Homo sapiens: one gene and its partner. The protein of the gene in region 1 interacts with the protein of each later gene in a biochemical or structural test. Each region holds a gene or a part of one and is shown in the gene's direction. Other genes may lie near its edges.

Region 1 (3,749 bases):
GGGGGGCCCCATCTCTTAAACAAAAGGGGGTGGGGGGCCCCATCTCTTAAACAAAAGGGGGTGGGGGGGCCCCATCTCTTAAACAAAAGGGGGTGGGGGGCCCCATCTCTTAAACAAAAGGGGGTGGGGGGCCCCATCTCTTAAACAAAAGGGGGTGGGAGGTAGTCACTAATATATTTTTTAAAACACTGAAAAATAGATTCAGAGGTCATGAAGAGAAGGGGTCTCATGCTTGCACACCTGATGACAAAAACTATCACAAAAACCTGCAAAAGCCACAATCTTTTTTTTTTTTTTGAGATGGAGTCTTGCTCTGTTGCCCAGGCTGGAGCACAGTGGCACGACCTTGGCTCACTCCAACCTCCGCTTTCTGGGTTCAAGCGATTCTCCTGCCTCACACTCTCGAGTAGTTGGGATTACAGGTGCATGCCACCACACCCGGTTAATTTTTGTATTTTTAGTAGGGACAGGGTTTCGTCATGTTGGCCAGGCTGGTCTCGAACTCCTGACCTCAGGTGATCCACTCGCCTTGGCCTCCCAAAGTGTTGGAATTATGGGCCTCAGCCACCGCACCTGGCCAAAAGCCACAATCTTACACAAAAAATACTTCCGCAAAAACATCTGCCCAGCAACTTCCTGTCCAGTTTCCGACTGGTGTCACCTTGTTATTGATCTTCGTAGCCAAGGATAACGGTTTAAAAACAATTATGTAATTCTCATTTTTTTTTAAATTTTAAAAACCTTTGCCTTCCTTTACCTCCTTGAATACGCACGTAGTTTACTAAGTCATGAGTATTTTCACACTTTATTCCCAAATAAATATATAAGAATCATAGAATGATAGAATTGAAAAGGATAAAATCACACAGTTGTTTCTAACTCCCACCCCTTAGAATGCGGCAAATGAAAAAAATTTTTTTTTTTGAGACAGGGTCTCTGTCTCACAGGCTGGAGTGTAGGGATCTCCGCTCCCTACAGCCTCAACCTCCCCAGCTCAAGCAATCCTCCCATGTCAGCCTCCCGAGTAGCTGGGACTACAGGCCTGCTGCCACCATGCCCAGCTAATTTTTTGTACTTTTTGTAGAGACGGGGTTTCGCTATCTTGCCCAGGCTGGTCTCTAACCTCAGGTTCAGCCTGATCCTCACCTCCAGGCTCAGGTGATCCGACCCCCTAGGCCTCCCAAGGTGCTGCGATGACAGGCATGAGCCACCGCGCCCGCCTATAATCAATTTTCAATATTCTAAAAAAGCCTACCAGAAATTGTATATTTTCTGGTGGTATTAAATGCTAGGTTTCCTTGTTTTGTGCTAGAATTATATCAGATCCACAATAAACCTAGGTTCCGACTGAGCTGGGTCTGATTGAGCAAAATCTGTTTTCCCATTATTGTTATGTTCAATTTGGCAAACAGCTTTTCAAAATATAGGAGTGAAGTCGTGGTCGAACTAATAAAATTGGTAACACTTGCTACAATGTTTGCAATTCGCAGAAAACTTCACTGACTTCATCTTAACTTATTCCTCACAAAGCTGTGGAATCACCATCAGTAGAGCAGGAGTCGTTGGCTCAATGCAGTGCTGTCTGCAACCGCTCGGAGCTTCTAGGTTCTTTCCGTGGGTCTCCAGCTTATGAGCACCTACATTCCGCGATTCGGAAGCACCTGCCTACCCCTCAGAAGAGAGAGACAGCTCCTTCTTCCCGTTCCGGAATGTGGTGCGTTCGCACGCATGCGTGACACGGCTACTCCGCGCTTGCGCCGATATTCTCCGCTTGGGGCGGATACCCTGGGTGACCCGTGAGCGTCCGCGCCCGGCGCGCGCCTGCGCAGTCGCTTTTCGAGAGTTTCCGCCCGCTACGTTCCCGTCTTTCAAACCACCCCACCACCTATACCATTCATTCCAGTCTCCTCAATTCTTTCACTGTATTAAGACGGCCTGCCCTCTGGCACGTTTTCTGGAACGAAAGCGGCTTGGGACAGACAGACTCCCTTCGCCAGGGAGCCCCGACCCCGAGGGCGCGCCCTGAGCGTCTGAGCGCAGCCCCGCTGCGTCCCCAGTTGTATCCCCCGCCACGCCCGCCTCTTCCGCCGCTCGCGCGCGCGCGCACGGCCGGCCACGGCGCGCCGGGGTTGGCTGCTACAGGGACCGCGGTGGCGGCGGCGGCCTCGACAGCGGTAGTGCCTTCTACTCCGCTTTTTTAGTTTCCTCCGCCCCCTCCCGTGGGACGCTGTTGTGTGGCTGCCTTAAAAAAAAACGCAACTTTATTGTTCCTCAGCCCCACCTCCGGCTCGGCGGGCGTCCTCAGGATGCACTGAGGCTGAGGGGAGGGGAGGCGGCGGAGGGTCGAGGTCGCGGTCCCTCTCCTCCGAGCGCCCGGCTGGAGGGGAGGGAGTCACGATGTCTGGTAGCCGCCAGGCCGGGTCGGGCTCCGCTGGGACAAGCCCCGGGTCCTCGGCGGCCTCCTCGGTGACTTCCGCCTCCTCGTCTTTATCCTCTTCCCCGTCGCCGCCTTCCGTGGCGGTTTCGGCGGCAGCGCTGGTGTCCGGCGGGGTGGCCCAGGCCGCCGGCTCGGGCGGCCTCGGGGGCCCGGTGCGGCCTGTGTTGGTGGCGCCCGCCGTATCGGGTAGCGGCGGCGGGGCGGTGTCCACGGGCCTGTCCCGGCACAGCTGCGCGGCCAGGCCCAGCGCCGGCGTAGGAGGCAGCAGCTCCAGCCTAGGCAGCGGCAGCAGGAAGCGACCTCTCCTCGCCCCCCTCTGCAACGGGCTCATCAACTCCTACGAGGACAAAAGCAACGACTTCGTATGGTGGGTTTGAAGAGCACTCCCTCCTTGTCCCTAAATTATGAGTTTCTGCCGCTTAGGCTTGGGGGCGGGGGGTCTGGTGTGGGGGTGGCTTGTTGGAGAGCTTGGGATACTGGTGCTGTGGTGGTGTCTGCAGAGGGAATCGAGCGTTTGCAGGCATTCGAGCTCCTGGTTGGTGGGGTGAAGGAATGTTGGAGTAGCGAGGCAGGGTGGGGATAATAAAGAGGTAGGTAAGTGTTGCTGAGGAGGAAGTGAAGGGAGTTTAACGAATGACGAGGGAAGAGGTGGAAGGTCAAATAAATGGTTTTGGATAACAAAGTTGGCAGAGAGGTTGAGTCTTAAAATTTTTGCCTCTCTGATGAATTGAACACTCAGTCAATCAGGAGTCCTTGTTGAGATGAATGAAATTTGCAAATGGAGAGGACTAAGCTTCCTCGGATGCAGAGGGGTGGAGTTGGTCAAAATTTATTTGAAGTATGGTAGATGATGCTGTAAACATAAGCATGGATGTCTTATAAAGACATGCTTTTTATAATAATGTAAGTACCTATCGTATGTATGTGTAAATATCTTCTTCCATTTCAAAGGATGGGCCACTTAGGAATCGGCTGTTGAGACGACTGTAGTCAAAGTCTGTTAACAGATTTTTCACTTCTCCACCAAGTGTCTTGAAAAGAGAGAACCACGTTTGTTAAATAACATCCCTGTGTCAGATGTAACTGTACTATACTGGATAACAGAGTATACTGGAACTTCTGACTTGAGAAATGCTAGGTATAGACATTTTGTCGTCATAGTTGGCATCTTGAATGATACAGAGTAACATTTAGTCATGACATTTGGGATAGAGAGGTTAGTCATATGAAGTGAAAGGTGGTGTTGATTGTCTTGCTTGAGAGTGTTTTGGAATTTTTATTGGATTTTAGATATTGGTAGGATTATGAGAAG
Region 2 (3,749 bases), on another chromosome or scaffold:
TTTTGAGACAAAGTCTTGCTCTATCACCCAGGCTGGAGTGCAGTGGCGCAATCTCGGCTCACTGCAACCTCCACTTCCTGGCTTCAAGGGATTCTCCTGCCTCAGCCTCCCGAGTAGCTGGGATTACACCCCCGGTTAATGTTTTGATTTTTAGTAGAGACGGGGTTTCGCCACGTTGGCTAGGCTGGTCTTAAACTCCTGACCTAAAGCGATCCACCCACCTCGGCCTCCCAAAGTGCTGGGATTACAGGCGTGAGCTACTGAGCCAGGCCCCTAGTGCTAATATGCTAAATGTGTGTTAAAGAACAACTTGGCGAGGTGGCTCTCGCCAAGCCTGCAATCCTAGCACTTTGGGAAGCCGAGGCGGGCCTATCACCTGAGCTCGGGAGTTCGAAACCACCCTGTCCAACATGGAGAAACCCCGTCTCTACTAAAAATACAAAATTAGCCGGGCATGGTGGTGCATGCCCGTAATCCCAGCTACTGGGGAGGCTGAGGCAGGAGAATCGCTTGAACCCGGGAGGCGGAGGTTGCGGTGAGCCGAGATGGTGCCACTGCTCCAGCCTGGGCAACAAGAGTGAAACTCCGTCTCAAAAACAAACAAAAACAAACAAACAAACAACACCACCACCACCTCATAATTACAAGATTAAGTACCTTTGAACATTTGTTTCTGAACCTACCACACGCAACTGTCACTTTGCAGGTGCTTAATAATTGTGAGCGAACATTCAACAAACCTCATTTCATAAACTTCCCTACTGAAATATAGTGGTCATAGGAGACCAGCAGTTTAGCTCATGGCTTCTGGTCCTTGCTTTGTATTGGAATACTGCTTCTATCTACTGACTCGTTTACCCTGGGCTTCAGTTCCTTCTTTGGGCTCCAGTTCTCTCACCTTTTAAGTAAAGGATTATTGTGAGGACTAAACGAGATATAAAACGTGTAAAGGTTTAGCACTGTGCTTAGCAGATAACGGAAATAAATGATCTTTATTATAATGTTTACGTTCCCTAAGAGTCAGTGGCTACGTCATGCAGGAGACACTAGTGTAGAACAAGCGGGCGGTGGTAACTAGACAGACCTGATTTGGCAGTCTGTCAAACCTCCACCACCCAGTATCAACCAATACGAGATAACTAACCTCGCCTCATTCCAAATCTCCCTTTTCTGACTCCCTTTCAAAATGAACAAAACTGCATAAAATGCAGGTCTATGTGGCCGGGCAAAAACAGACTCAGTCATATCCCTTAGAGAGTTATTCCGGCGCCCACCCCACCTCGCGGATAGATCCAGCCGGAGTTAAAGGAGGGCACCTCCGGGTGGGCGCGGTGGCTCACGCCTGTAATCCCAGTACTTTGAAACGCTGAGGAGGGTGGACCGCTTTGAGCCGGGGAGGTCAGACCAGCCTGGGCAACACAGCGAAACCCAGTCTCGCTATGTTTCGAATACAAAAATTCGCTAGGCATGGTGGCGGGCACCTGTCGTCCTGGCTAGTTGGGAGGCTGTGGCGGGAGGATCGCTTGGGCCCCGGAGGTCGAGGCTGCAGTGAGCCAAGATCGCCCCACTGCACTCCCGCCTGGACGACAGAGCGAGACTCTGTCAAAAAAAAAAAAAAAAAAAAAAAAGGCCGGGCTTCGTGGCTGACGCCTGTAATCCCAACACTTTGGGAGCCCGAGGCGGGTGGATCACCTGAGGTCGGGAGTTCGAGACCGGCCTGGCCAACATGGTGAAACCCTGTCTCTACTAAAAATACAAAAATTAGCTGGGCATGGTGGCGGACGCCTGTAATCCCAGCTACTCGGGAGGCTGAGGAGGATCGCTTGAACCTGGGAGGCGGAGGCTGCAGTGAGCCGAGATTTTGCGCCACTGCACTCCAGCCTGGGCAACAGAGTGAGACTGTATCCAAAAAAAGAAAAAAAAAAAAAAAAAAAGGAGGGGACCTCATAGCCGTGCAAGGTGGAGTGAGGAAATGCGGATGTCCTCACCACTCGCCTTTAAAATCGCGCGTTGTCATTGCTGCCTCGCGTAAAGGTTCCCCCGGCGCTCTTCACCCACAGCGCCCCGGGCGTACAATCTCGCCAGCCCGGAGCCCACCGCACGCATCCTCCTCGCCCGGCGCGCAGCGGACAGCCTCCTACGTCACGCCAGCGCCGCGCGGCAAGGAAGGCCCCCTTCTCCGCCTCCGCCTCCTCCCGACGCCGGCGCCGCTTTCTGGAAGGTTCGTGAAGGCAGTGAGGGCTTACCGTTATTACACTGCGGCCGGCCAGAATCCGGGTCCATCCGTCCTTCCCGAGCCAACCCAGACACAGCGGAGTTTGCCATGCCCGAGAATGTGGCACCCCGGAGCGGGGCGACTGCCGGGGCTGCCGGCGGCCGCGGGAAAGGCGCCTATCAGGACCGCGACAAGCCAGCCCAGATCCGCTTCAGCAACATTTCCGCCGCCAAAGGTATCACTCTCATGGCCTGACCCGCGGCGCCGCGGGGTTGTGCTCTGCGCTCTCATCGTGGGCTTGAGCGGGTTTGGCTCATTTCCCATTTCTTCGGGTGATCCTCTCTTGTCCTCCCTATAGAAGCAGCCCAGTGGAGGGATCCTTATTTCTGTTTTTCTGCCGATGATCGCCAACCCGGAGTATGGAGGCCTTTGGACTTGCCCCATTTTGCATCTTAATCTCCCTTAGTTTTTCATCCTGCACTGTGCATCATTCATATTGGAGCCGAAAGCAGTTCAAAATGCCGAGGATTGCATGCAGTCTTCACTAGGGATCTGACGCTTGAGGGCTGTCGCTTATTGCTTATTGGAACTGGTAGAATGCACAGTATCTTTCAGCTTTGTTATTCTTATTTAAAGAACTATTAAATAAACTTCACTTGGCACAACTGTTGAGACGAATTGGGTGAACTCTCCGAGTCTAAATTGGGGCGGGGCCCATTGTACTGGGATGGATGTGGGAACCGACTTACGTGTCGTGTTTGAAATAGTTGCGGAAAAGTTACGTTGATGTCGTCTCCGCATGTGCAGTGAAACATAGGCAAATCAAGAAACAATTATTTGTTTTTTTTGTGGAAGTGTGTGGCACACGTTGGAAATCAGGAAGACCAGAGTTTCATTCTCTGCTTCCGTTACTTCATGTCTTAGTGACCTGTAACCTCTGTGCCAAAGATTCACTTATAAAATTGGAGGAAAATGTTTGCTTTTTAGAGTTAAGATTAAGAGAAATCGAGTTGAAATAGAAAAATCTGGAAGGAAAAGTCAGGACAGAGGTTTAGAGATCTTGCCCGAGTGTATATTGAGTATAGTAGTTCTTTTGGGTTGGAGAATAGTAGTATGTTTACAGAAGAGGTGAGATTAGAAAGCTAGGTTGGGGCAGATGTTAAAGGCCTGGTGTCCTGGAAAGTATTTGGCTTAATCTCCCCCAGCTATGGGATCATTTCTTTTTAGCCATCGTGTAGGCTTGCTGTGAGGATTCAGTGAGAAAGCATATAAAGACCCACGTATATAAAGTACACCTTACATGTGTTTGCAGTCATCAGCCCAAGTAACTGGGAATGTGATGGCGCTAAGATAGGTAACGCTGGATGTAAGAAAAAGTAATAGTTTCTAACTTGTCCTAATGAGTTGGAAAGGTCAGAATGGCCAGATTTAGGAGTCATTTGTAAGTTTAGGAGATAATACACCTGGAAACGAAGGTTTGTAGGATAATTGTCTAGGGACCATAGTTGAAGCTTACATTTATTAGATTAGGAAC

The links.
Region 2: of the proteins of COP1 (region 1) and CCT4, one has a biochemical effect on the other in vitro, tested with the Homo sapiens proteins (one study listed by BioGRID).

Annotation. Positions count from the first base shown.
Region 1 is NC_000001.11:176,205,627-176,209,375, reverse strand, and holds the start of COP1 (E3 ubiquitin-protein ligase COP1), read left to right. Parts: upstream 1-2,089; 5' UTR 2,090-2,397; coding exon 2,398-2,804; intron 2,805-3,749. UniProt on the Homo sapiens protein: E3 ubiquitin-protein ligase that mediates ubiquitination and subsequent proteasomal degradation of target proteins.
Region 2 is NC_000002.12:61,887,082-61,890,830, reverse strand, and holds the start of CCT4 (T-complex protein 1 subunit delta), read left to right. Parts: upstream 1-2,174; 5' UTR 2,175-2,323; coding exon 2,324-2,450; intron 2,451-3,749. UniProt on the Homo sapiens protein: Component of the chaperonin-containing T-complex (TRiC), a molecular chaperone complex that assists the folding of actin, tubulin and other proteins upon ATP hydrolysis.